5 linked regions of the Homo sapiens genome follow. The protein of the gene in region 1 purifies or fractionates together with the protein of each later gene. This does not show direct contact. Each region holds a gene or a part of one and is shown on either strand. Other genes may lie near its edges.

The links.
Region 2: the proteins of FAM83F (region 1) and CPS1 purify together in Homo sapiens (affinity purification with mass spectrometry; one large-scale study listed by BioGRID and IntAct). This does not show direct contact.
Region 3: the proteins of FAM83F (region 1) and RBFOX3 purify together in Homo sapiens (affinity purification with mass spectrometry; one large-scale study listed by BioGRID and IntAct). This does not show direct contact.
Region 4: the proteins of FAM83F (region 1) and SPIDR purify together in Homo sapiens (affinity purification with mass spectrometry; one large-scale study listed by BioGRID and IntAct). This does not show direct contact.
Region 5: the proteins of FAM83F (region 1) and FAM83B purify together in Homo sapiens (affinity purification with mass spectrometry; one large-scale study listed by BioGRID and IntAct). This does not show direct contact.

Annotation. Positions count from the first base shown.
Region 1 is NC_000022.11:40,038,822-40,045,449, reverse strand, and holds the end of FAM83F (protein FAM83F), read right to left. Parts: 3' UTR 1,916-6,628; downstream 1-1,915.
Region 2 is NC_000002.12:210,675,097-210,681,143, reverse strand, and holds the end of CPS1 (carbamoyl-phosphate synthase [ammonia], mitochondrial isoform b precursor), read right to left. Parts: intron 5,417-6,047; coding exon 5,304-5,416; intron 4,138-5,303; coding exon 4,008-4,137; intron 3,258-4,007; coding exon 3,159-3,257; 3' UTR 2,037-3,158; downstream 1-2,036. UniProt on the Homo sapiens protein: Involved in the urea cycle of ureotelic animals where the enzyme plays an important role in removing excess ammonia from the cell.
Region 3 is NC_000017.11:79,092,854-79,097,057, reverse strand, and holds part of RBFOX3 (RNA binding protein fox-1 homolog 3), read left to right. Parts: intron 1-224; coding exon 225-405; intron 406-1,483; coding exon 1,484-1,545; intron 1,546-2,528; coding exon 2,529-2,607; intron 2,608-4,204. UniProt on the Homo sapiens protein: Pre-mRNA alternative splicing regulator. Regulates alternative splicing of RBFOX2 to enhance the production of mRNA species that are targeted for nonsense-mediated decay (NMD).
Region 4 is NC_000008.11:47,262,851-47,268,897, forward strand, and holds part of SPIDR (DNA repair-scaffolding protein), read left to right. Parts: intron 1-6,047. UniProt on the Homo sapiens protein: Plays a role in DNA double-strand break (DBS) repair via homologous recombination (HR).
Region 5 is NC_000006.12:54,844,246-54,850,794, forward strand, and holds the start of FAM83B (protein FAM83B), read left to right. Parts: upstream 1-2,525; 5' UTR 2,526-2,581; intron 2,582-5,323; exon of another isoform or gene 5,324-5,421; intron 5,422-6,549. UniProt on the Homo sapiens protein: Probable proto-oncogene that functions in the epidermal growth factor receptor/EGFR signaling pathway. Activates both the EGFR itself and downstream RAS/MAPK and PI3K/AKT/TOR signaling cascades.

The sequences.
Region 1 (6,628 bases):
CCCCGGAGACGGGAAGCGAACTCGACGGCCGGGCCAGCCCACCCGGAAGCCCTCCCCCAGCTCACACCTGCTGGCGCGTGACGCCCGGAGCCGCGCGCGCGCCCGCCAGTGCCTGCCCGGCCGTTCGGGGCGCCCCGGCCCGCGCGCCGGACGTCGCCCCGAGTCCCTCCCCGCCCCTCGACTCAAATCTCGGCGGCGCCCGCTCCCGCGGAGCGCGCGCTCAGCGCCGCCGGCCGCACCAGCCCCGCGCGCGCTCACGCCCCCTCCCCGGCCCGCTCCCCGCCCCACGCGCGCTCCCTCGCGAGGACACGCACACGCCGCGCCTCCGCTCACCGCCCCGGGCCGCGCCGCGCGCCCCCGGGGGCGCCCTCGCCGACCCCCGGCCGCCCCGCTCCGTCCCGGCGGGGCGCGGGGGAGGGGAAGGACGGCGCGGCCGCCGCACCTCACTCACCGCCGAGCCGTGCCGGCTCCGAGTGCGCGGCGTTTCGCTGTGAGGCGAGGCGCGCAGTCTCCGCTTCTCCGCAGACTATGGAGGCGACGTCGTAGGGGGGACTGAGGGGCGCAGGGGTCACTCCCTCCCGTTTCGCCTTGCAGCAGCACGGGGACCCCAAAAACTAAAAACAAAATAAACAAACTTTCCCCTCCGCATCCCTCCCCCAAAACCACAACACAAACACTCGGGGGCCCGCCCAGAGCCCCACTCCATTGGCCGCAGGGAGGATGCTTCCGGCTCTCACTGGCTGGCTTTTGTGCCCGTCAAGCTGTCGTTCCGCCCCTCCAATTCCTCGTTGCTGCCTTCGCCCCTCATTGGTTAAGTGCTTCCCGTTTAACGAGCTAGGATTGGCTGAGCTGCCTGAGCCAATCATGTGGGGACACACCCCCTCAGCATCCCAGAGGCCGCTTCCTCGGTCGAGGACCCAGAGAGACTCAGGGGAAATTAGAGCATGATGGCGGCCGAGGTCGCTTGGCGCAACCATCGTCTTTTTTCTTTATTTTTAGCTCATTAGTGCCTTGCCTCGGCGCTGTTTCCCTAAGCTCCTCTCTCCAACCAGTACTGCCCTATAACGGAATCCATACGTGCCGGCTCCTTGATTTATCCCCTCCGAAGTGCTGAGTGTGGGCTGGTTGTGCGTCATTGGACTGTCAGGATGTCACTCCCCAGTCAAATCTTCAAGCTATTGGTGGAACAGCAAGAAAGCCCGTCCATCAACAAGGGCTAATACCATTGGTTTGACTCCACTGTGTTATTTCCTGGCACCTTATTGGGCAAATAGGTGCGTCAGATCCGGATTCGCTCTGCTACGGTTAATTGTTTACTGGGGATTTGGGGTCAACTCTGGTTGTTTGGCCAGTAGTTGACGATAATAGTGACTCCCTTGCCTATTTTGTGCCAAGTATTGGGCTGCTTTCTTCACAAACATTATCTGGTTAAACCTGGGAGTAATGCAGTATCCAGTTTTTATAGATGGGAAATTAAGGCTGGCGAGAGCTTAGAAAACTTGCCCAAGGTCATCCAGATACAGAGTCGTTGGTGGGCCTGGCATCTGGTCCTGGGTCAAACTGCAGAGACTTCACTCTTTTTATTATGCTTTAGTGCCTCCACCTTAGACGATGTACTTGTCAGCCAACCTAGCATCTTAAAAACGTTTCATTTGGAACTCAAAGTCTTCAGTCAGTTTCTAGAAGTGACTTTGTTGGGGACTTACTATGGAAAGGTTGTCATTGCCTCCACCACATCTTCCTCCCCAGGACCCATTCCTCTCCCCTTTAAGGTAGACATTTCTGCCTCCTTTTATGCGAAGCCTAGGCACCACTCGCAACCCCTGACCAACCATCTACAACTCATTCTTTGGAGAGAGTCCTCAAGAGCTGGAAAACTAGGAGAAATCAAGTCTAAAGAGAGAGACAGAATAAATCGTCTTAGAAATGAATAATTTATTGCATGCAAAGAGAACAGCCCTTCAGCTCCTGGAAATCTTCCAGGATAGTTGATGCTGAGCAAGACGTGTGCTCCTGGCTGGTGGCCACTGGGTTCTTTCCCTATAGCAGCATTCATCGAAGTGAATCCAACATTTCAGCCAGAGGAGGGCAGGACGCTTAGGACCCATTGCCAGTGAGCTTTTGCGACCGAAATGATCTCCAGGAGCACAACGCTGGACTCTAGCCCACATTCCATCTTGGGTAATTAACATTTTACCGTCCCAAATCCCCATCCCCTGTAGCTTCAGTGGGATCACCGCCCTTGTTTCACTTCCTGATCCAAGCTGTTGTGTAACCTCCTTGGCACTGCTTTAATAATAAAACAACCATTGTAACATAGTAACAATGCTCAACACTTAGAGCCTTTCAGCAAATGAAGCCAAGGTATTTCATAAACGTCAATTAAGAGTAAGTGGCATGTATTCCTAGGGCAACTGCAAGAAGGACAGAAGAAAGATCGTGCGTCAAATTCTAATATAGGTTGTAAGAACGTGAGTCCTTAAAATTGTATGCACATACCCCATATTAGCCTTCCAGTATGGGGATTCTGAACTCAAAAACACAATGAATGAGAAACATTCAGAATCTAAAACCTTCCTAATCTTCAAAGTTGGTTGCTTGGACCCCTATTTTAGCACTTAAGTTGGTGCTTGACTTTCTGGGTAATTGTTTGATACATTTCAGTTGTAAGTACCTTGAAGCAGATGGTTTCTTTTTCATCTTTGTGTCCTTCACATTGTTCTGATCGTAAAAGGCCCCCAAATAAATAATTACTCAGTAAATGTTTAGTGAGCATGTCAGGCACTTTTACTAAGTTACAAAGGCTATGCAGATGAGTGATACACTCTCTCTTCCTTCAAGGACCTCAGTCGAGTAGGGGTGTCCAGCAGATAAGCAGATAACCATGATGCAGTGCTGTGAGAAGGTGCCCTGGAAGCAAATGGTAGGGACATGGGACTCCATCTCGGGAGGGACAGAAATGGCTTCCTGGAAGAAGTGACACCTTCAAGGAGAACTAAAGAATGAGTTACGGTTAGCTAGGCAAGAGACTGGTGATGTGTGGTGACCTACGACATTTGCTCTCTGGTGGCAGGGAGCAGAATGGGAATATCCAGAGATGGCCAAAGCCTGTTCTTCTTAGAATCTTTGTCCATAAAGGCCTCAGCAATTTGTCCACTCCACCTCATTGTGCCTTCCCTCCCAGAGACAAAACAAATGCCTGAAACCTTCTCCTATTTGCCCACTTGAGAATAGGAAAATAATTTCCAAATAAGATGGCCGTTTTTCTGATCATAAAAGTAACATTGAGGCCAGGCACATTGGCTTATGCTTGTAATCCCAGCAATTTGAGAGGCCAAGGCGGAAGGATTGCTTGAGGCCAGGAGCTTGAGACTAGCTAGAGCAACACAGGCAGAGCCCATTTCTACAAAAAGAAAGAAAATAAATAGTTGCGCATGGTGGCCTGCGCCTACAGTCCCAGCTACTTGGGATGCTGAGGTGGGAGGATTGCTTGAGCCTGGGAGTTCAAGGCTGCAGTGAGCCACACCACTGCACTCCAGCCTGGGCAATAGAGCAAGACCCTGTCTCAAAAAAAAAAAAAGTAACATTGAGTAAATATAATATTAACTCAATATTTAATATTCTGTATTTCAGACAATATAGAAAGTTATAAAGTAAAAGCCGCCCATAGTCTGTTACATCCAGACACTGTTAAGGAGACTATCTTCCCAGACTCTTTTATGAACAGACCCACAAATGAGTTTCTTCTTCCAACAAACAGTGGGATGTGGTTCAGGGTCTTTTCTGGGCTCTCAGAGCTCTCATCACCCAGAACTGCGGCTTTGGATGGAACCTGCCCTCGCTTTCTATACTTATAGGAAGGAAGCCAATCTGTCAATCAAATATTTATTGTGGAGAAGATGGGTTTCAATTCCTGTCAGAGCCAATGGCAGGACTTTTGGGGCTTACTCAGCCTGGTGTGAATGTTAAGCCAATGATTGGGGTGAGGGCGTCTGCCCTGTAGGGCTTACAGGCATGCCTTGGTGCCTGCGGAATCAACTCATACCCTGAAAAGGCAGCCCAGGTCAGAGAATGCTATGCCAGGGTGCTCTCTTGTGCTTGCTCTCATTTCCTCTCTGCATGCTACTTGGGGAAAATATTTTTCTGTTTGTTTGTTCCAACCCACCCAGCTTTCAGAGTAAAAAGACTCGTTAAGCCCTGCACACTTGTATGCAGGCCAAGTGCACTATGTTCTTGGAGCGCTGTGCTATTCTTAGCGCTCTATATGTGGTGTTCTATACAGTTGGCTTTTTGCTGGAGGGGAAGGCAGATTTCATGAGTGATAGCTGCCTTGGCTGGCTACCAAAAGTGCTCTGAGCCATCTCAAGCAACAGGCCTTCCTTTTTTCCCTTGAGAGGTTGTGTTGTGATCCCTGCCCTCGGCTTGGACAAATTCCAAGGCAATGGGAATTTTTGTGAACAATTCTGCAATAACCCACAAGCTGGGGGAAGGGGGGATAGCAAGCTGGATCTGCTCCAGCTCTAATTTCTGTGACACAGAAGAACTCCTTCCGCCCTTTGCACTGGCCCCTCATAGCTATGAAGAATTTGGAAGTGTTCATTAAGCATTCTCCAATTCTTGAAGCTTATAACAATGGGAAGATCCCTGTAAAGGAATCTGATCCAAAAGACAAGGGGACAGCTGACAGCTGATACTGCTTGCTTGGGCAGTGGGTGTAGCCATTGCCAAAGACCAAGAGCAATGAGGCAGGGAAACTCTCTAAAGAGGGCTGATTACAGAGGGCATGCTTATAAGCATTTATTGCATGTCTGGGAGCATTTACTGTGCAACACATCCCTTGTGTCTGTCTCACCTTCTAAATCACCTATCATTTTTTATGACCACACTTCCTGAGAAGCTACTTAGTTAAGCAGCAAACACTGGACCCCCTCATGTGTGCTGGCCAATGCTAGACACACAGGAGGCAGCTCACAAGAGAACCAGGATTATGGTTAATAATAACTACCCTTTGGTGGACACTTGCTGTGTGTCATACACTGTACTGAGGGCTTTACGTGGATTATGGCTGTTAATCTTCACAACAACCATTGTTATCCACATTTTCTAGATAGGAAAATGGAGGCACTGAAGGGCTAACTAACCCATCGTTGAACCTAGGCGGTCTGACTCCAACGAGTAAGCTCTTGTCCACGCTGCTATATTGCCTCTGGGATGTCTGACTTGGGAACCCCACAGTGCAGCTGGGGAGATGACCAGCCCTCAATGAACAGTTGTCCTCGTAGTCTTTAGTATCTCAGCCCCATCCTCTTTACCCCCTATAAACTCAAGGAAAGAAATACACCTCTTTCCGGCTAAATTACTGCCTCTGGTGGTCCTTCCTCCACGTCCCAACTGAGATCTGGCTTTTCTCCCACTCCCTTCAAATAGCTTCCTTCCCTTTCTTCTCTATTTTCTTATCCTAGCTTTTTAAATAATGGCCTGCGGCCATCTCCACCACCAGGAATGCTCTCTCGTTTTCTCTCTCTGAACCTGGCTTCTAGCCCTAACTCTACTGAAATTCATTTCTCTAAGCTCATCTATAACCTTTTTGTGGCCAAGATCCAAGAGACTTTCTCAGTCCTTGTTTCCATGGCTTCACCAATACGTTTTACTCTGAGAATCTTTTCTTTGCTTCCCCAAATAGCCAGCTTTCCTCCTACCTCTACAACTGTTCATGCTCTTTTCCCTACCATCTCTTTCTCTAAGCTCCTTCAAAGGAATCTGTCTGCACTTCTCTCCTTATGTTGTCTCTGGGGGCGTGCGACGCTCGCAGGACTCAGCAAGCTCAGCTGGGTCATTATCCTACTTTCACCTCTAAGATGAGAATTCTATCTCTCCATCTCCACCCTTCATTCTGCAGCTTGTTTGCTGCGTGACTTTTTGCAAGTCACACAAACTATCTAAGCTTCAGTTTCCTCGTTTCTAAAATGAATATATTGAATCGGATTTGTTATTCTCCACCTAAGATAATGATAAAACCTAACATTTTAACCCACATACCAGGCCAGGCGTAGTGGTTCATGCCTGTAATCCTCCCAGCACTTTGGGAGGCAGAGGCAGGTGGATCATGGAAGTCAGAGGTTCAAGACCAGGCTGGCCAAAATGGCAAAACCTCATCTCTACTAAAAATACAAAAATTAGCTGGGTATGGTGGCGCGCACCTGTAATCCCAGCTACTCAGGAGGCTGAGGCAGGAGAACTGCTTCAACCTGGGAGGTGGAGGTTGCAGTGAGCTGAGATCGCGCCACTGCACTCAAGCCTGGGCAACAAAGGGAGACTCCATCTCAAATTAAAAAAACTGCATACTATGCCAGGCAGGACTAAGTGGAAAATGAAAGCATGGGGTTCTGTGTTCACAGGTTTCATGCCCATGAAGCCAGCTCTAGTACCAGCCTCTGCTCCAAGCATTGTATATGTATGAGCTTATTCAGTCCTCATAGTAACTTTCTGAGGTAGATACAGATGAAGAAAGTAAGGCAGAGATAGGTTAAGCAGTTGCCCAAGGTCAGTTTTTAATTGGTAGAATTGAGGAAAATAACACTTGCCTGTTGGGGCTGTTGTGAGACTCACGGGTGCAGGTGCATAGGGA
Region 2 (6,047 bases), on another chromosome or scaffold:
AGTCTTTTTAAAGTTTGGAATGTTGGAAAACAGAAAGGCAACCAAAACAAAAATTAATGTAATTCCATTTTCAGCACCATGAGGTCTATCCTGTCTTCTGGTTTTCCAAAGCCCTTTTGTCAACAAAAAACAGAGTTTATATAGACACAATGTTAAATTAATTATTATTAATCTTCAAATTTTACCATATCTTACAAATAGCCGGCTCACATTAATATAAAAATTAGGACCCTTTATTAAATTCTCACAATACAATGATTAACTAATTGAGTTTTTGACAGTTTCAGCAAACAATTGTTTATTTAAAACATTGAGTTACATATCTAAATTGGTCACTAACAGCCTGCTCACTTTTAGTCAACATGTAATTTTTATCTTCCTCTGTGAATATGTATGTGTGTCAAGTGTGTTTAGATAGAGAAATAGATGATAAGAGTAGAATAAAGCAAATGAAGTAAAATATTACCAATAGGTAGATCTGGGGATTTTTTTACTTTTAAAATTTAAATCCAAAATTATTTCCAAATAAAAAGTTTTAAAACTTCTACCTAGTTTAAACATCCACCATTAAGAGTCCAGTCTCAACTTCTGCTACTAGCCCTTTCCCTCCACACATACCCTGAGCTCCAGTCATAACAACGTCATTGTCATTTTCCTAAATGTCCTTACCTTCTAGTCTTCCTTGGCAACTGCAAGATCTTATTCAAGGCAACACATGAATCCATCTCCTTAAAATGCCCTTCCCTGATCTCTGCAGGCAAATTATTTTCTTTACTGTGAGAAATGATTTCTTTTTACATGCCTACCTTCACCAGAATATGATACAGAAAAGTGAGACTCCATTTCGTGTGACCTTGAGCATGTTACTTAACTTTGGTATGCCTAAGTTTTCTTATTTATAGTATGGAGATAACAGCACCTACTCACAGGGATATTTTGTGGATTAACTAGGTTAACTCATGTAAAGTACTTACAAATGCCTGAAAAATAGTATGGACTCCATAATGTTAATTATTATGGTGATGGTGGTTGTGGTGCTGGTGATATGTAACAGAAACATGCTAGAATAATAGTAGGAGAGATTGTGATATATTCTACATGAAACATGGAAGAAACTCATTAAATATTTTCAGGTGAATGAATCAAAGTGATCAGGGATTACATAATTATATGATTATAGGGGACCAGCCTGCCCAACATGGCGAAACCCCGTCTCTACTAAAAATACAAAATATTAGCCAGGCTTGTTGGCGGGCACCTGTAATCTCAGCTACTCAGGAGGCTGAGGCAGGAGAATCGCTGGAACCCAGGAGATGGAGGTTGCAGTGAGCTGAGATCGCGCCACTGCACTCCAGCCTGGGTGACAAGAGCAAAACTCCGTCTCAAAAAAAAAAAAAAAAAAAAAAAAAGATTACAGGGAAGAAGTAATGAAAGTCTTGACCACAGGAAGAACAAGGAAGTGAGGGGGAGAGAAGATGAATTACTTTAAGCATTCGTCTAGAGCTATACAAAGTGGTAATCAATTGACTGTGAGGTAACAAGGAAGAAATAAAAGCTGTTATAGCATAATTATCTTAGGACCTTCACAAAGCCATAGTTTCGGTGGTAAATTGGGGATATGGCATCAGTGTGCTCATTGGCACTATTTCCATCAGACAATGCTGGTCAGCCTCTGATTGGGTTAAGTTACTTTTCTGAGTTATGCAAGACATTTGTTTGAAAGTTTACTATATATTTGTGGCAATCTTTAATCAGTTTGTGGTTGTAGTTATACATTAGAAAGGATCCAGATCAAAGATGGTTTATAGCCATATAACCACATAATGTTATGATGAGACTTAAAAGCAAGGGAGGGACAAGAAAAAATGAAAAATGTGACAGCTAAAACTTATTTTTAACATTAATTTTCTCATCCCTATATGGGTTTGCATGGAAAAAATAAATAAGCAATGCAATCCTGGCCCAAAACCCTATTTTATCATAGAAGTAAACTGATTTTTGTACAGCAACATAAAATAAAACCAGATTCAACTGCATTACCTCTTAATAGTATTTTATTTAAAAGTTCACAATTAGAGCACTTGTAATAACAGAAAATATTTAAAAGTAACAAAGGCTGCCCTTGGGGAGAGACTTTTTTCTTATATGTAGAAGGAATGGTGTCCTTGCCCTTACAGTGGGTGGAATTAATAGTGCAGTGTGGGACCCCATAGTTCAACAGAATCCATCGTCTTAAGGGAATGAACCTTACTTCCAAGTTATTCCAAAACTGGGGGAGAGTGTGAATGACAAAAATCTGATTATTTCACTCGGGCCAAGTTAAAATCCAATGATAAAAACAACAACACATCTACATAAACACTGTCTACCATCTGCTGATATAGTCCAGAAAACAAAACTGCAAACCAGTATTCCTTAAAGAAATCCATAGTCTAAAGCAGGAGAATCGCTTGAACTTGGGAGACGGAAATTGCAGTGAGCCGAGATTGTGCCACTGCACTCCAGCCTGGAGAGTGTGACTCCATCTCAAAAAGAAAAAAAGAAAAAGAAAAAGAAAAGAAAAGTCCATACTCTAAATGCCTCTGTCACATTTCTCAACTTCAATATAATGGGAAGGGATAACAATATTCCTGGATTAGCCAAATGGGTGAGAATGAGGATCCAAAAAGAAGCAATACACAAACATCATGATGGAAGGTTCATAAATTAAATCTATATTTAATTTTATCAAGTTTTTAGAGTATTCTGCCCTGTTAAAGTGTCCTGAGTTTGCAGATAGTGTTTTAAAAATAGAGTATCTTAAAGTATAGAAAGAGTTCAGAAAATAGAACAGCAACTTTTCCTACCTTGATCACCATTAATCAGCACCATAAAAAGTAAAAAGCTACACATAAGCACATAGGCAAGCCTAGTCCACCAAAAATACAGTATTAGTAAATGGATGAAATCTCATGAAGAGTAACTTAGGAAGGACTGTAAGGTTTTGAAGAAGTGACTGACAATTTAATTGCAAAAGACACAGAATATTAAGGCATAACAAAGTAAACTGAAATGAAGTTTAGTTATCAATATTCATCTCTGAGAAAGTTGTGAATCAGTTCCTTTAGATAACATGTGGCTCAGGTTGATTTAATAATGGGGCTGGGGTGTCTGCATCTCTATGCTGCTTTTCCAGCACTGTACTGCCTGTAGTGGAAAAGACTCTTGGAGTCCACCTTGCGAGATTTCTGCACAGCTTCAGCAAAAAGTTTGGTCACCTGAAAATATAATGGTAGGAATCAGCACCCTCCATGAGATAAAAGTGAATTTTTAATGAATGAAGACAAAAGTCACAAGTGTCTGTCCCCAGTTTTCAAAGGGGTATGGGATAAAAGGCATAAAAGTTTTTTATGTAATGGAGACTTTCTCCCATGTCTCAGACCTCACCATGGGGACTTTCTTTTATATCTCAGATGTCACTGTGAATACGCTTATTTCTCCTCCCATAGGGATTAAAACTGATTCTGCATAAAAAATAAATATGATAGGCAGAAAGTTAATGAGTCTCCACTCTGTTTCTCCCTGTGATAAATTCGATGGGTCATGTCCAAGTGAAACTGAACATGCCTCATGCAATCATTTTCTGTGAATTGAACAAGCACTTGTGCTACATCTGGACCATCATTAACCTGTTGCTTTTATATGGTGGCTTTCATTTAGAAACAATGAAATAAAAGTTTGTATCTTTATTCCATGTCATGCTGTCACTTTTTATTCAAAGGATAATTGTAAGGAGAGAGCCATGGCCATTCATGGCCTTTGATTATCTCAATTGCTTGATCACCAACTGTCCCATTTAAGCCATGACCTACCATGTTAGCATCATTATTTTAGATTATTAAAAATTCCTCTCTATTCTGAAAGTTACAAAGAGGGGAAAAGAGAGATGTGCATCTACTGATTACACTCTTAAGGGAGGCACAGAAATAAAACTCCCATCCAGTCTATATCCAAGGAAAAGACTATACCTGAAAATTAGTGAGGAGAGGGATTCCACTATCAACAGCTGTCCTCCGAATCACATAATTATCATGGACAAATTTAGTGTTGTTGTTGGGAAGGTTAATCACTAGGTCAATGCTGCCATCTCTAATCAATCTGGAAAAATAAACAAAAACTTATAGACAACAAGGCATATTTTATAGTTAGTTTATAAAATACTAACATAAATTGCTCTCTTAGCCATTCAAGTCAATGCCATGCTGAGTTGACTGCCATCTGCCCTCCTCTATTGCTAAGTAGATGTTTAAATTACACTTATATAGGGATTATATTGTGTTCTTGAAGGAATTCTAGTGCAAGTCTAATGGAATGCAGATGTTTGTTTTCTCTTTAAAATGCTATCTGTTCACTCATTAAGAATTGGTAATTTGATAGATACTTATTTTTTAAAAAGAGGTGATCCCTCCACCATTGAATGCCCTTTCACCCCCATGTTCCCACTCCCACATTAACTCTATTGCCTCCTTAGTAGTGCTAATTATTGTTTTACAATGCCCCAAACACGGAGCTATTACATCCTTGGAGGCCTGCTAAGGTTTGAACACAATGCCATTATTTTATTAAAGTGATAATAATTTATGTGTTGGTTTCTCAAGAACGCTAACAAATAACATATTGCATAGAATGGCACAGCCATTCTGTAGGCTGCACTATCTTAAAACAGCAGAGAATTATCTCCTATGTACTTATGCCACATAGATCTTTAAGGGTTGATGCAATGGTATTCCTGAAGATTCACACAATCTGCTGAAATAAAATGTCGTACAAAATCTAATGATGACATGGTCTAAGGCATGAAAACCTGGTCAAGGAATGACCAATTAGGTAATCCAATGGATGACATCATCATAGTACTCAACATAGGTTCCTGTATGTAGTAAGTGCTCAACAAATTGATTTATTATGCACAACCTTAGTGAAATATAGCTGGTCATCTTATACTCGATGTACTTATCTATACACAATATAAGTTTGACATGAAATATAAAGTGCTGCATTACATTCTTCATGCTCTCACTTGTTTCCGTCAAGGAAAGTATCCTTACTAAGAAGTATTTTGAAACACGTTTCATATCACCATGTACACATGACGTTATGTATTCCATAGTGATGGAGAGTGAAACTTGACAATCATCCACAAATGTATTCATTTTTAAATTTGTTTTAAAAGACTTGCAATCAAGTAAGGTGAAATATTCATATACTGGTTCTCAAAGTTAATCCTCTAAATTATTTCAGAAAACAGTATGCCTAGTTCTTACTTTCTGATGGAAGAGAGGCTGGGATTCTGTCCTTCTTGAGACGGCCATGCCACTGGGGTGGCAGGGACATTGTTGGCGTTGAGCCAGTCTGATGTGGCTTCCGTGGCAAACAGCTGCATTTAAAATGAAAAAATCAATTACCGTATCACAGTGATTTCTTATTTTTATGGAACATGTAATTTAAAACATAAAGAAGAAGAAATTGCTGAACATGAGAAGTAGTATAGTGCCATGGATAGAGACTTGGACTCACAGTCCAGAGGCATGGGCACTTTAAACATTTTTTATATATTTGCAGTGATTTAAAAAACTTAAGAACCTCAATTTTATTTGCATTTCCATTTTAATAATTATATGTTTAATTTGAATTTAATAATTCAATGACAATTTCTCATAAATTTAATAATTTCTCAATTATTCATGGCTAATTCCTTGTTAGCAGGTCAAAAAATCCCCATGGCCACAGGCCCATCATAAGCCTTGGGAATAATTTTGTTTTACTCAACCAGGCTTTGTGTGGAGGTATTCACTGCAAAGAAGTTTTGCCTGTAACTGTCACAGCTAGAATCTATAACCTCATATGAAAACAAAAAAAGGAAAAACATATGGAAATGTGTTGGGACTTTGTCTCAATTGTGCTTAAGCTAAACTTTCTCAGTTTTTAGCTGGCAACTTCTATTGAATTTGTGGTAATTTTGTTAAAAGTTAATACCAGTCTTTTTAATGATTTGACTCTAAGTTTTG
Region 3 (4,204 bases), on another chromosome or scaffold:
CAGAACCTTGTCTGGATGCTTTAATGGGGCCGTTGTCCACTCTTGAGGTCAGCGAGGGGCTTCTCTGAGCCCTCTCTGCTCCCATTCCCTGGGGTCTGGTGCCCTCCATCACTAAAGGGGTGGGGGGCACAGCTGCCTGGGGTCGGGTGGGCTATGGGCCCCGGGGTTTGTGGGAGAAAGTTGCTGATCAGCAAGGGTGTTACTCTATTGTTATACCAAAACAGGGCACTGGAGCAAACGCTTGTTAAAATGCCAGTCCCATGGGCGGGGCTGGCACCGTGCCCCCTCCCTCCTCAGCAGACACCGGAGCCGGCCTACCCCACCTCTCCAGCGTTCCCACCACTTTCTTGTCCGTTTGCTTCCAGGGTCGTGTATCAGGATGGATTTTATGGTGCTGAGATTTATGTAAGTGTAGCCCCGCCGGGAGGGAGGGTGGGATCAGGCGTTCTGTGGGTCTCAATGAGAAGTCGGCGTCTCCTCTCTCACTGCCCGCTCCTCCCATCCCATCCCATCCCACCCTTGAAGCCAGGAGGGCGAGGGTGCCACGTCTGCCCAGAGTATGGCATCCCTGAGAATCCCAGCATGGCACAGTTTGGTTGTTGGTACCCATCAAGGGAGCAGTTAATGGGCCGCCCAGCAGCCCTGTGAGCTGAAACCATCTTCCTGTGGGCAAGGCCTCATATAATGGGGGCAGTGGGACTCTGCCACGTCCCTAACCACGCTGCGGTCAGTGAGTGAGCCCCTAAGGCACCCACAGCACGGGCTGCAAGAGGGGCCAGGAGGCAGGGCCCCTGGGTGCCTGTGCTCCAGGGCCTACCCCCCTTGATGGGGTCCGGTGGCCTTTCTCCCCCTTCATGGGGCCACATGTGCTGCTTCCTCTGTCTCAGACTCACTGACGGCCACACCCCATGTACCCAGCCACCCTTCAGTCCTGGGCAGCTGCCTACAATTCAGTTACCTGCCCATTTGAGGCCAGGACATCATCTGAGCTCACGTCCTCTTGTGCCCTTTACCCTTGACCCTTCCTGGTGTCCAGGACACTATCCAGAGTCACTGTGGGTTCTCCCAGCCCCTCAGCATCCAAGTCAGGCCTCAGTGGCCTGGTGGCAGGTCTGTGAGCACCTCTTCCTTGCCAAGGCCTAGCACCCAGCCAGATGAGTCATGGGTACCCGCTAATGTGTGTGGAGTGCACAGATGGATGTGTGAATGAATGAGTGAATGAATGGAGTGGACAGGCAGACCTGCCTCGCCCTGAACTGTGCCACCTAGCCATCTGCAGTCCTCGGTCCTGTGTTAGACCAGAACTAGGTGCCCAGGCCAGGTACCACCTAATCCTTACCCAGCCGAGGCTGGGAGGCTGGGAAGGTCTGTAGTCCCTCCCAGGGCCCCACCCGCACAGGGTCTGTCTCCTCTCCCCACTCAGCCTTTCCCTGGGGAGCCCCACTAAGTCCCTCTGCTCTCTCTCCTCCCACTTACCCTGCAGGGAGGCTACGCAGCCTACAGATACGCTCAGCCCGCTGCAGCGGCGGCAGCCTACAGCGACAGGTGAGGCCGGGGGCCAGCACTGTTCTGGAGCAGGGTGGGGAGAAGATGGACAAGGATCCCTGGGGAGCTGGGCCCAGACAGGCAGGAGGCGTAACCCACTCTTCCAGGCCTGGCGGGAGTAGGGTCGGGACAGGGGAGCAGGTCTGAGTGTGGCCCTTGAGCCAGTGAGCCCCTGACTTCAGTCACTTCCTGCTTACCCCATGGGGAGGCTGTGGAAACCCCAGGTGGAGACCGCATCTCTGATTCCCAGTCCCCCCACCGCCCCCCGCAAGCCCCGTGCCCACAGTGGCTGTCTGTCTTGGAGGCAGACGCTTGAGTGCTTCCTCCTGGAGCAACCTAGCCTAGTGCCTTTCCCCTCAGACATCTGGCCTGTTGGTAGCTGAGCTCCACCACTCTGGTCTGGGGACCGCTTGTACCCCCTCCCTCCTGGCAGCCCCGGCTCCATCTCCCTGAAGTGTGGTGTACAGGGTGCCGTGGCCCAGCTCTGCTCTCTAAGGAGCTGAGAGTTCCCTGCACAGACAAACTGCTGAAGGGAAAGTCGTGAGGGACACAAGTGTCACATTCTTGGGGGCAGTGTTCCTGGTCCCTCCTCGTTGACCCTCTCTCTTCTCTTGAAACCCTCCCCAGTATTTACCACATTCTTTTTGGGGTGGAAGTTTGTTTTCCCTGCAGACGAGCTCCATGAGGACACCATCCCCCTCCACGTAGCACTGAGTGGAACACACCCCCTCCCCCCACCCCGTCAGGGTCAGCACACTGTGGGCATATTGAGAGGGTTGCCTGTTGTGTTCCAGAAGCTTCCTTCTTAACAAGAAGGAGGGGTAGGCCTTGCAGGCCTTGCAGGAGGGGAGGGTGCCTTGCAGATGGGACCTCGGTACAGGGTGCCCATGTAGTGTCTGGGAGGAGGTGGGAGGCCGTTGCTGCCCCTCACCTGCCCCCCTCCCCCACCCTCCTCCCACTCCCCCTCCCACGCTCTTCCCTAGTTACGGCAGAGTCTACGCAGCTGCCGACCCGTACCATCACACCATCGGGCCCGCGGCGACCTACAGCATTGGAACCATGGTAAGGAGCCCAGGCCCGCCCAGCCCTGGGTGCCAGTCCTAACAGCTGGGCATGGGTGGTGAGGCCCTTGGGGGAGAGGCCGAGCCCTCTGACCAATGCCTTGGTCCCGGAGACTTTGGAAGGACCACGGCCTGGATGTGAGTTAGGGTGAGGGGAGGGCTGGCCCCTCACGCCCTCTCAGTTGCGGGGAAGCAGGTTGAATGGCTGGTCAGCCCACCGTACCATCTGGTCCTCTGGAAAGCACCCCAATGTGCCTGATCCGTTTCCCTGAGCTCCCTCACTATAATAAAGTCCCGTTGAGGCCCCTCCATTCCCATTTCCACCAGGAAAACCTCAGAAACCAAACCAGGGCCGCCTCTCCTTCCCAGCAGAGGCTCCCAAGGCCCCGGGGCTGTTTCTGCCCACACCGCATACCCACGGCCCACCCGCACTGCTGCAGCCCCCTCGCATCGCATCCGAGAGGGGAGTGTGGGTTACCGGTTGCTTCTCACCAGGCTCTAGCTCCTGGCTTCCTGGGGGCTCCTGGCGTCCTGGGGAAACAGTGCCTGCTCTGCCCCAGCCTCCTCCCTCAGGCTGTGGGGTGGAAGGGGCGGGGCGGGGAGGTGCGCGGCGTGGCGTGTCTCTGTGTGTGTGTGTGTGTGTGTGTGTGTGTGTGTGTGGCCAGCTGTTGACACGTGCAGCCCAGCTCACTCTGCACCCAGAGCTGCTTCCAGCAGACACCTGCCTCCTGTACCCACTGGCCCCAGCCCCGGGGTGTGAACACGGGTTTTAGCTAGCTTGGCATCCAGCATCAAAGATGAAAACATCTTGGGAGAGTGAGGAGGGAGGAGGTTCAGAGGCAATATGGATTTTTCCCATCTTTCTTGGTTTTGATGACTCCCTCCAATTTTTTTTTTTTTTTTCAATTTTTAACGAGCCTCAGACACCCCCAGCAGCCTGTGGTGGCTGTGGGCAGCCACAGGCGCGGGTCTGGTGCGGCCCCACCCGGATGGAGGTGTGATACCCTGGCTCTTGGGCCCTCCGTGCAGCTGCAAGCTAAAAGCTTTCATTAACGCACGGAGGGTTCCCTCTTGTGTTTTCACTTTGTATTTTTAAGATTTTCTATTTTTCCCCAATTTTTCTTCTCTTGCACTTGCTGTGTTGTTCTTTTCTGGGAAAACTGGGTGGTGGGAGGGTGGGAGGCCCCTTCAGAGCCTTCCCTGACTGGAGGCAGCCCAGGACATGGGAGAGCTGGAGCATCCAGGACCCGCTCTCCCCAGTAGGACAGGGCTGGGCCTCAGGTGGGCCCAGGAGGACCCAGAGACCCCCCCAGAGAGCAAGGCTCTGAACACTATGCCCAGCAGGCTTGCCTCTCCCAGCGTAGCTGGCTTCAGTGGCCCCAGGCTCTTGAGCCAAGGCCCAGGAACCCGCCAGGAGGTCCCTCAGTGCTCTGAAGATGCCCCGTGCCACCCTGCTGGGGTGCGAGGAGGTGGGGCTCAAGCTGGGACCCCCCCTCTGCATAAGGACAGTGAGAGGCCAGGCCTGAGCCCAGAGAAGTGACCCAGACATAACTCAAGCTGTGACCTAGAAGCACTGTTGGCCATGACCCCAGAGCACC
Region 4 (6,047 bases), on another chromosome or scaffold:
TGGAGTGTTGATGTGTAGTGCCGGCTAGCATGCTCCCATTCCATCTTCAGAGGTGACTTTCCCTTAGGCACTACTTTGATTATATTGTTAGTCCTCTATCTAAATCTCATTTTACTTCTTATTGGCTACATCATAATTTACTGCAGAACTTATCCTGTGTTTAGTGCTTTATATGTATTAACTAATTTAATTATTTTAACAGTCCTGTGAGGTAGATACCATTAGTCTCATTTTATGGATGAGGAAACTGAGGCTCAGCAGAGAGGCTAAGTAATTTGCCTAAGGTCACACAGCAGTTAAGGGAAGAAGCTAGGATTTGTATCCAGGTAGTCTGCCCCAGACCTTGCTTTTGTTCAGGCTCTCAGCCTGTTATTCACAGCCTCCATAATATCTGTGTCTTATTCCTTTACAGCTTTGCTCATTATTTATCTTATAGGTAAACTAGACTACTGCGTCACTGTACTTGCTTGCCCCTTGGTGGTAATTGCGTATGTTCTTGGTTTGGAATAATGCCAGTTCTCCCATTTCTGCTGATTGAAACCTTTTTTTTTTGAGACGCAGTCTCGCTCTGTCGCCCAGGCTGGAGTGCAGTGGCGCGATCTCGGTACAGGCGCCAGCCTCCACACCGGGCTAATTTTTTTTAAATTTTTATTAGAGACAGGGTTTCACCGTGTTAGCCAGGATGGTCTCGATCTCCTGACGTCGTGATCCGCCCGCCTCGGCCTCCCAAAGTGCTGGGATTACAGGCGTGAGCCACTGCGCCCGGCCATGAAATCTTAATCATCCATTGAGGCCTACTTCAAATCCCACCTTCTCCCAAATTATCCCAGCTATAAATGAACTTTCTTCTGTATGTTCTTGGTTTGGAATAATGCCAGTTCTCCCATTTCTGCTGATTGGAATCTTAGTCATCCATTGAGGCCCACCCCAAATTTCACCTCCCAAATTATCCCAGCTGTAAATGAACTTTCTTCTGTAGTCTGTGGAATTTTATGTAAATAACTCTTACTATTCCATGTCTTACATTAGGTTTATTTGTGTCTACACCTTTATTCCCTTATATTCTAGACATTTAAGATTAGGGACTATTTCTTCAGCCCATATTCCCCAGAATACCTGTCATATCCCTTGTATGTACTAGATATCTGATGAATTAATGAAAGGAGAACTAGTTTAGAAGATTTGCAAGTATTCCAGGTGTGAAGAAACAGGAGGAAATACCCTAGTCCGAAGACTCGGATATCTGCCTCAGCAGTACAGCTGAATGATTTTGCAGTTTTGGACAAGCCACACAGATATATCACGACTCTTAAGATGAAAGGTGGTGTGGTTATGGACTAAGGTGGTGGAATTAGGAATAGAATAGAAAGGACTGGGTTGACAGACTACAAATGGAAGGTGAGATTTAGGCAACTGCAATTGAAAGAGGAAGAGGAGGAAACCCATGGTGATTCAGAAAGTCGAACCTATGAGAAGTGAGAAAGTTGTTTGCCTCTTAACTGATGTTAGGATATATAGATATATCCTATATATCACATATATAGATATGTGGTATTTAAGTCCCAGGGAGATTAGGGCAGTCAGTTGCTCAAAGGCTGGGGTATCTTAGTTCTTTCCTCACTCCCCTCTCCTCCATGAGTTTCTCCTGCCCTAGCCCCTCACTATCCCTTAACATGCTGTGATTCTTCCCTTTGTGCCTTGTGTTCTCCCTTTCCTTATGAAGTAGCCAAGGACGACCACATATACTCCTGTTCTTGGGCAGCAGCTTGCCTTTTGAGATTTTCTTTTTTTTTTTTTGAGATGGAGTCTTGCTCAGCCACCCAGGCTGGAGTGCAGTGGCCCGATCTCGGCTCACTGCAACCACTGTCTCCTGGGTTCAAGTTCTCTGAATAGGGCAATATACCTAACATTGAGTTGTCGTTTCTTTATAAAATGGGGTTAATACCTATATTGCTGGGTTGATGTGAGGATTAAATTATGAGAATGCATGCGATGATATACCGAGCATATAAACACTCAATAAATGTTGGTGATAATGAAAGCAATTAATAATGAAACACCATGATAATTAAAGAAATCATATGAGGACAAAGATATTGTACATCCTCTACTGCTTTGTCTCTAGATTTCCCTGGAATTGCTGTCTTTCAGCTTCTTGAACAAGAAATAGGAAAAAGGCTCATTTTCAAGTTTTTCAGTGATGGCAGGAAATTCTCATAGTTATCTTGGTAGGAGTACCTCATGGTTCCAGTTTAAGGCCTTGATAGTCTCATTGAATGATTTACTGGTGGCTCTACATCTCAGAATTAGACTACTTAGTATTGACATCTCAGTTGTCTTTTTTTTTTTTTTTTTTTTTGAGACAGTCTTACTCTGTCGCCCAGGCTGGGGTGCAGGGGTGCTATCATGGCTCACTGCAGTCTTGAGCTCCTGGGCTCAAGTGATCCTCCCATTTCGGCCTCCTGAGTAGCTGGGACCACAGGCCATGCCACTGTGCCTGGCTAATATTTAAATTTATTTTGTAGAGATAGAGTCTTGCTGTGTTGCCGAGGCTGGTCTCGAATTCCTGACCTCAAGCCGTTCTTTCTCCTTGGCCTCCCAAAGTGCTGGGGTTACAGCGTGAACCACTGTGCCTGGCCTAGAGGTTGTCTTATTCCTCAAACCAAAGGGAAAGAGAGGAAAGAGAGCTTTTATTGAAAGCTTTCTATATGTCAAGCACTTTGCATAGAGTACCTCATTTAAGGGAAAACATGTTTTCTTTTTAGTCAAAATAATACATGTTCATAGGTAAGGTAAAATAGTACAAAAAAAGTTTGTTGTAAAACTCAGCAGTCCCTTGCACATCTCATTCCATTTATTTTTATTGAGATAACTGTAAATTCACAGACAATTGTGAGTAATATAGAGAATAATTGTTTTATAAACTAAATCTGGAGGCTGGGCCTTGCTAGATCAAAGTGTTGACAGATTTCATGTCTGGTGAGGGCCTGCTTTCTGGTTCACAGACAGCCATATTCTTACCATGTCTTTATATGGTGGAAGAGGTAAAGGAGCTCTCCAAGGTCTCTTTTATAAGGGCATCAATCCCGTAACTTCTAATCACCTGCCAAAGGCCCCACCTCCTAATACCATCAGGTGATCTGCCCGCATCGACATCCCAAAGTGCTGGGATGACAGGCGTGAGCCACCATGCCCGGTCTGAAGTTTTTTTTTTTTTAATACAACATAAAACTCTCATGATTTATCGAAGTTGTTGTGCATATCAGTAGTTTCTTTGTCTTTTTTTTTTTTTTTTTTGAGTTGGAGTCTCACTCTCTTGCCCAGGCTGGAGTGCAATAGCGCGATCTCGGCTCACTGCAACTTTCCGCCTCCCCAGTTCAAACAATTCTCCTGCGTCAGCCTCCCAAGTAGCTGGTACTACAGGCACCTGCTGCCATGCCTGGCTAATCTTTTGTATTTTAGTAGAGACAGGGTTTCACCGTGTTGCCCAGGCTGGTCTTGAACTCCTGAGCTCAGGCAATGCAATCCACCCACCTCGGCCTCTCAAAGTGTTAGGATTACAGGCATGAGCCACTGTGCCTGGCCAATAGTTTCTTTGTTTTAATTGCTGAGTAGTGTTCCATATAATGGATATACCAGAGTTTGGATTAACATTTATTATTGAAGGACCTCTAGGCTGTTTTCAGGTTTTGGTTATTGCAAATAAAACTGCTATAAACATTTGTGTACAGGTTTTTGTGTGAACATAAGTTTTCATTTCTCTGAGATAAATGCCTAAGTATGTAATTGCCAGAACCTATGGTAATTTGATGTTTAACTCTATAAGAAACTGACAAACTTTTCCAAAGTGGTTATATCTGTATAATTTTGCAGTCCCATTGGCAATGTTGTTATTCAGTTTTATAGATAATAAAATCTACCCTTTTAAAGTGGAAAATCCAGTGGTTTCTAGTATATTTACAGAGTTGTACAAATGTTCCTAATTGTAGAATATTTTCATGACCCCAAAAAGAAACCCCATAGCTATTACTAGTCAGTCACTCCCCATTCTCTCTTCCCTCATCCATTGGCAACCACTAAGCTACTTTCGGTGTGTATGGATTTGCCTATTCTGGACATTTCATATAAAGTGTGGTCATTTTGTGACTGGCTTCTTTCATTAAAAATAATGTTTTCCAGGTTTATACATGTTGTTGCATGTATCAGTACTTCATTCCTATTTATTTTGAATAAATTTTTTATTGCATGGACATACTGCATTTGAAAAATCCATTTATTAGTTGATAGACATTTGGATTATTTCCACCTTTGGGCTGTTAAGAATAATGTTGCTTTGAACTTTTTTTTTTAATTGAGATCCGGTCTCATTATATTGCCCAGGCTGGTCTCAAACTCCTGGCTGGGCTCAAGAGATCCTCCCATCTCAGCTTCTCAAGGTGTTGGGATTACATCCGTGAGCCATCGCACCTGGCCTGCGTTGAACATTTGTATATGCATTTTTATGTAGACCTAAGTTTTTCTTTCTCTAGCAGTGGAATTTTTGGGTCACATAATAACTGTATGTTTACATTTTGGATAACTGTTAGAATTTTCCAAAGTGGTTGCACCTTTTACAGTCTCACCAGCAAGGAATGAACATTCTAATTTTGCCACATTCTTGCTAACACTTGCCATTGCCTGTCTTTTACTTTTAGTCATCCTAATGGTTATGAAGTGTTACCTCACTGTGATTTGGTTTGCAGTTCCCTAATGAGATTGAGCATCTTTTCATGTACTTATTGGGCATTTCTGTATCTTCTTGAAGAAATGTTTATTCAGCTTATTTGGCTGCGTTTTCATTGGGTTATTTGCTGTTTTATTGTGGAATCACGAGTTCTTTAAAATTCTGTATACTGTTCCCCTATAAGATGTATGATTGCAGATATTTTCTCTCATTCTTTGGGTTTTCTTTTCATTTTCTTATTGAAGTACAAATGTTTTTAATAATTTTGATGAGGTCCAATTTGTTTTTTCTTTTGTTTCTTGTGCTTTTCGGTGTCATGTCTAATAAATCATTGCCTAAACCAAGGTCACAAAGATTTATTCCTATGTTTTCTTCCAAGAGTTACAGTTTTAGCTCTTACATTTAGGTCTGTGATTCATTTGGAGTTAATTTTTCTACACACTGTGAGGTAGGGGTACAACTTCATTCTTTTCGATGTGGATACCCAGTTGTTTCAACACTGTTTGTTGAAAAAATTGTTCTTTCTCCTTGAATTGTCTTGGCACTTTTTTGTTTTAATTGAAAATCAGTTGACCATAAAAGTAAAGGTTTGTTTCTGGTCTATGAATTCTATTCCACTGATCTCCATGTCTGCCTTTATTCTAGTACCATACTGTTTTAATTACTGTAACTTGGCAGTGTTGAAATTAGAAGTGTGAGTTTCTGACTTGTTTTCTGTTTTGAGATTTTTTTAACTGTTTTGGGTTCATTACATTTCCATATGAATAATAGCAGCTTGTCAATTTCTGCAGAAAGCCATCTGGGATTTTGATTTTGTTGAATATATAGACAAATTGGAGAGTATTATCATCTTAACAATATTATTTCCCATGAGCATGGGTTGTCTTTTCATTTATTTAGATCTTCTTTAATTTCTATCTATGTTTTACAGTTTTCAGTGAAAAAGTCCTGCACTTCTTTGGTTAAATTTATTCCTAAGAGTTTTATTCTTTTTGATGCTATTTTGAATGCAGTTCTACTGGCACATGCTGCTGCACGTGGCTAATATTTTTTGTTAATTTTTTGGTAGAGATGGAGTCTCGCTGTGTTGCCCAGGCTGGTCTCAAATTCCTGGGCTCAAGGGATGCTCCTGTTTTGGCCTCCCAAAGCTCTGGGATTATAGGCATGAGCCAGCCGCACCCAGCTCCATTGATTTTTTTAAATATTGAGATTGTATCCTGCAACTTTGCTGAACTCATTTATTGGTTCTAATAATTTTTTGGGTTTTCTGAAGTGTGGATTCCTTAGGATTTCCTGTGTACAAGGTCATGCAGCTAGGCATGGT
Region 5 (6,549 bases), on another chromosome or scaffold:
CTACACTCCAGCCTAGGGGGCAGAGCAAGATCCTGTTTCAAAAAAAGGAAAGAAAGAAAAGAAAACCTAGTTATTTCTTTCACTTTCAATTCTACATCCATTCTATCTGATGCAAATCATATTGATTTTCTATTTCATTGGCTCTCAAATCGGTTTCCTCCTTTTCATTTTCACTATTCCTTCCCTTGTCATACTATTCACATGACAGCTAGGCATAACTACTCTTCCTGACTCCCTAGAATTTATACCAAAGTCACCAACTGTTAGATTAGTCAACATATCACCAGCAAGAGACACAAGTCCATATTTTTCAGCTTGCAATCAGAGTTCTTCCCAATCTGATTCCCAGTATAATTAATAGTAATGCACTTACGGGCTTACCACAGATCAAGAGCTGGGATGTTTTCCACATACCATATCTAATTTATAATTCTCACAACAATCTTAGATTATAAATAATTTTGATCTCATTCTGTGAGAAAATTACTCCAAACTTTATGTCTAAATGTATCTTCCACCACTCACAACCATGTGATGCCCATGGCCAAATCAGGTAATTGATTTGCGTGGTTCTGGAACTTGCTTTTAGCCTTTACTCTGCTCTTTCAGCATCTAATCACATGTCAATTTCATTCTCCTGACAAGTTTGCTCATCAGTCGGGACCCAACTCAAATTCTAATAGTTCTGTGAAATTCTGTCCACATTCCTCACCCACCTTCTAGGCTCCTTAAGGGGTGAGATCAATTTTATCTATTTTTCCATCCCATTAAGGATGGAAAGGTCTTACATAGCATAATACCTTTAATAGATTCTCCCTCTCCACGTCTATTTTCTGATCTTTTGTTTGCTTTTAATAATGAACACTCGAGTAGATATATCCTTCTTTCTTTGTGATTTCACTTGACTTAGCATGAGTGCATATCTTAATAAAATTAGACTTCCTATGGGCCTCATTTAACTCCAAATATTCTTGATATTTTTAACAATAGGATAAGTGCATCTCAAAACGTTCATAAGTATTGCACCTTTAAGAGACATTCAGAATTATTCTCAAAGGCTGTAGAAACACGCCAGTATATTAAGTACCACATAGAGAATATTAATTTAGTCAATGGATTGCATGCCAAAAATGAGGAAGAGAACTGAAAAAATATTAAAAAGTGAGATGTGAAAATTAGGAACAGAAGGAAAAAATAAATACATAAAACAAGACAATTCTCTACATTCTTTTGAAGAAATGAAACTACAAACCAGACACCAAGATCTGGAAGATTAGCTTTGTACTAATCCTGGAATTTGCTTTTACTTTCCTGTCTTTGGCCTTTGCTCTGATGTTTCAGTATCTAGACTAATGCGAATTTCATTCTTCAGTTTAAATCAGCACGTCAGTCAGGGATTCATCCAAACCTTAATGGCTTAGCATTTTCCTCAACTGTTTTATTTGGAGCAAAATCGCCACGAAAGTCATTTTTAAGGGTCAATTCAATTTTATGATAATTTATATATTATGCCAGACGCTTAAAATATGCCTATTACTACCCTAAATTCCATTCTTACAGTACTAGGCTGCATTTTAGACATTTGCTGCAAATGACTTTATCTTGAAGTCTACGTGATTACACAAATTATTATAAATACTCATGACAGATTTACTGAGGTGTAGGCAAGGAAATTAAAAAATAAATTTTATTAATTACTGTATTTTATGTTTAAATTATAGTGTCTCCACTTCCGTAACATTGCTCCGCAGTATCCCACCTAGAGGGACCTGCTTTCACGCACATCTCCCTATTTTAAACAATATCCTTTCATCCCAAATCTGTAACTAGGACAGTTGAGAGTCAGTACCAAAATCTTTGATGATATTTGAAATTCTTTTACATAAAAAAGTAAAGGCACAAGCACTTTTTCTTCTACTTTTCCACTCCCCACGTCCTCTCCAAGCCTAAAGACTCTTAGGCACTGAGAAGGAGTCTGCACTGCGGGATGCCCACTGGAATTACCTACTGTGGGCTGAATCCGCCCCACACTCTCGAAGGTGCTACAACCCTTGCTCTCACCCGCGGCCCCCAGGCCTCTCCTCCAGGCATTCTTGAGCCCAGGGAAAAGCGAGGACGGGACCACGGCCCCGCTCGGCCTAGATCCGCCTTCTTCCCAGGTGAGCGTCGCTGTCCTCCGGGATCGCTCCTCGCCCCAGACCAGGAGCAGGGTGTCGGGACTTGTAATTGCCCCGTAGCCCCGAGGGCGGGCAGGAAAGAAAGGCTTTTTCATACTCCGCTGGGAGAGAGCAGGGTGTTTGAGTTCAGACAGGTTCCGAGCGCTTTCTGGCTGTTCGGGGTTTGGCGTGCCACCACTTGGGACTTGTTGTAACCCGTCTCCACTCCCGCCCCCTCCAGCGCTGCACCTTGTCTCGGGGAGGCGCGGTTCGAGCCGGAATCAGCCTCCCTCCGCGGACCTGACGCTGGGCAGGTAACTCCCCTCCCCTCCCTGCCCGCGCCCAGGCGCTTGCTGCTTCCTGGGAGGCAAACCTTCGGCGGCCGGCGCTGTGCGGCGGGCGCGGTTGCGCGCGGCTTGGGGCAAGTAAGTGGGGTTTGGGCTCCCTTGCCCCGGACCTCGGCGGACGGGACCCCAGCGGGTGCAGGGTTGAGGTGCTTGGGGTACTGGGGGGGCCCGGGGCTTCACCCGCCCCTGGCCGGCGCGGCGGACGGGAGGGATAGGGGACTCTCCCTTGGGAGCGCAGGCGGGATTGGAAATTCCACAGGGTGTAAAGCTCAGTTGCTTCAGTCTTTTCTACGTTTCTTTCATTGTCGTGGGGGTTCGAGTGAGTTGAGAAGTTTGAAAAGTTGTCTCGGGCGGAGTCGGTTTGGGTCCCCAGAGGACTGGCGCCGCCCCTCGTGGAGGCTGCATTTGTTTCCTCTTTTCCAGTGTAGGAGTGCGCCGAGGACCCCGGGAGGGGAAGCGGGAGGAGAGACCGCTGGGAAAAGTCTCGTGGGAGGAAGTCCAGGGTGGAAGCAGAGGGCATGGGGGTGGGGGGTTCCGGGAAAAGGTGGGAGAGCTTAGGTCGCTGAGGGGCGTGGGTGTTCTTTAGATCCTGAGTGGGGAGCAGAACTTGAAAAGACAGTTTTTTCACACAACCTCTTAATTGTACAGGATCCCGTTTCTGAGTGCAGACTGGTAGCGACCTGTGTTTTTCATACTTGGGTCGGCCTGAGTCTGGGTCTGTGTGCCCTAGCAGCTCTCCAGGAGAGCCTGTACCTACCAAAGTTTGAGAACCACTGCTCTAGATCCTGGTGAGTGATCTAGAAGAGGAGAGTAGGCCTAGAGCAGATTGCTCCTGGAACGGGACTTGGAGACTTTTGGCCTATTCTGTGTGATATGTGGGGAGACTTACCTGTGTAAGGTTAATGGACAGGCAGAGAATGCCTGTGTTCATTGCAGGAGTCATAGGTATGTAAAGAGACAACAGCGCTTTCTTTATAGGAGGAGGCTGGGAGGTTATGGAAACACAGGTTAGCATGTTGTCTATGCTCGGAGCGGTGAAGTTATAGGGTCTCTCTGACCTAGAAGTGGAAATGAGAGCTCAGGCGGCCAGAACACTTAAGAAGAAGGTGTGCGGGTGGCAAGCAATTGAGGCTAGAATTTAATGCTCAACAGCTTATGTCCAAATTCCCAGTTACAAACATCTTGCTAGGTTACTGGCAGGCACCTCCCTTCTTTCCCTTTCTCATCCTAACAAGTGCAAGAGCCCCGAGGAAATCCATGACTGAGGCTGAATCATTGCTGACAAGCAACAGGAAGGGAGAGAGTGATGAAAGAGACTTAGAAGAGAAAACTGGGGTTTTTTGTTTTTTATTGGAGTGGGGGTGGGGGTGGCGGTGGGAGGCTCAAAATGATTGGAGAATGAGAATAATGTGAAACAGAATGATGGAAGGTTGGGAGTGCAGGTCTTTGTTGCGTTTGTTTCTCTCTGTCTTCCTATAGTTCCCAGAAAAGTAGAAGTCCCCACACCTTCCAATTGCAAATTCCACCCCCTTGCCTTTGGGGCTCAGGCACACGTGGGGTATACACCTATTTAGGGTGCTGGCTACACCCTCTAGAGCCTGCCTAAGGGGCTGGGTGGATCCTGCCTTTAAAGCTGGCAGGCTTTAGACCGCAGATGCTGAGAATTTATTGTGGGAAGCATTACCAGTTGAACAGTTGCTGAAAGAGATTGTATAGATGGAGACAAACCACACCTCTGGTGCTGACTCAGTGATGTCTTTTACGTTTATGCCCTTGAGTTTATGACGCTAACTGGCTAAACTTTTTTGGGATGAAGTAATTAATTTTATTAATCTTTCTATTTTATTTCCTCTACCGTCCACCGTTCTTTATAGGTTAAGGTGGAGGTTCATTCACTGAGTATTTTCTTGACCATGACTCACCTTGCAGCAACTAACCTACTTGTTTCCCATTTAATTACATTATACAATACTGAGTTGCCAAAATGTAATGTTATTATACTTTTAAGTGTCCAGAATCTTGGGGTGAAACTGTTATCCCATCAAAGCGGGACTCTTCTAATACATAAATCTGGTTGGAGGAGACCTTTTGAAAAGAGGCCACTTAGCTTAATTTAATGAATTATTGGTAAAATTTCAAGTTGTCCTTGTTTATCTAGTTAGGTAAGTTTGCACGTCTGTCCCTTTATAAGTTGCAAAATGTGAATGTCCCATGGATGTTTCACAATTCACCTTTTTAAACACAATGTTTTGTTCATTTTGAAATGTGCTTTTGTTCCTTTAATTTCTGATCTGGAGATGGAATGTATTTTAGAATTTTGTTGTTGAATTTATCATCTGAACATCAGAATACATCCGCTCCCCCATGGAAACAGAGTTCTAAATGATGGTTATTCACAGCCCAGCTTTAAGGATGCCGTAGATAAAAAGTTGTACAAATAGCACTTAAACTCCATCAAGAATCAAAGCCAACAACATTTCTCTGAGAAAATGTGTTAGAGCCTTCAGTGGGAGCTTCCTTCCCACTGAGGTGTGCCAATGGGCATGGGCACTGTCTAGAAGTATCCTGGCCCCTAAGGGTAGAGCAGGCTTCCCAAGGGGATTGGGAGGCTGAGTGCTGTGGGCTCCTGAGACAAGAGCTGGGGGAAATGGTAGGCTCCAGTGGAAAGGATATACGTGGAGGTGAGGTGGAGTGGGGGGCAAGTGGGCTGTATGCTGGGGAGGAGGGTGCACTAAGGAGGCAGGGGGCTAACATGTACAGAAGGTAGGGGTGGGTGATGGAGGGGGCAAAGGATGTTTTCAGGGGCTGTGATGCTGTAAGGAAGGTGAGCCTTGGTGGAGAGATGATCCAAATATGAGAGATATTCATTGGGCATGCTGTCTATGTTGGGAAGTCCTGGAATCACATGATCATGAACGGTAGGAAACTTTTCCTCTGGGGACATCTAATTACTACCCAGTTTGTCTTTTGTTTTATTTTTACATTGTCCTTAAGAGTGGGGTGAGAAGTCCCCTAAGGGCACATGACATTTATCTTTTCAGCTGTGTCTTAAATAATTTGTAGATTACTGGTCCATGGGAAACTTAAATTAGTCATGGTCAGCCTCTCTTGCATACTGACATAGAGTCAGGTGTAGTCTCCCGGTTACTGGCAGGGGCCTATGTTGAAGAGTTTATAGAGAAGTTATGCAGTGATGATGATTATCTAATGGCTCTAACTTTGTGCTCTTTTACACTATCCCTTTGATTAAACATATTTATTGACCATTATCTGCCAAGCAATATGTTCCTCTCCAGGGGTAGGAAAGTAAAAATATATTCCTGGATCTTAGGAAGCTTCCAGTTTAGGAACCTAATGATAATTATAAGTACACAAATAAATAAATGGATCAAGTCCACTGATTTTTGTAGTTCCTTCCTATTCTCTGAAGGTCACAGCAGACGTTGTTTGTGTTCATTAATCATTTGTGAAATTGAACATTAGCAGCCCTGGGATAGTCATGTTTTTTGACAAAGTATTAACATTCTTTAGGCTTGCAGGTTTTTCACTGGTATTGTGAAAGGTTTAGACTATGTGGTCACTCCTGTGTCCCACCCACACTGCTCTGAAATTCTCTGTGATCACTTCTTATTGAGAGTATCATAAAATAATGTTAACTAAGGTTTCCCCACAGTATCACTGTGAAGCTTATTATTTCCACTTCTTTGGCCAAATTTTCATTTCAAAAGGTTTTCGTTCTTTAACATCAGATTCCTTCTTTGATTACATAAACATTACTACTTGGAGAAGAAAAGGCAGTTTTCAAAGCACTAAAGAGTGTCATCTTCCATCTCAATGGTGGTAATAGAATAACTCAACATAAGATGTTTGGGCTGTCATTTATATATACACACTGGCAATGATGGCTTTAATTCTTAACAGCATGTTACTCCAAATACCTAGTCTCATAAGACTCATTCAACAGATGTTTTAAAAGTACTATATTTTAACGGCTGGAAATAGTGGCTCACACGTGTAATCCCAGCACTTTGGGAGGCTGAGGCGGG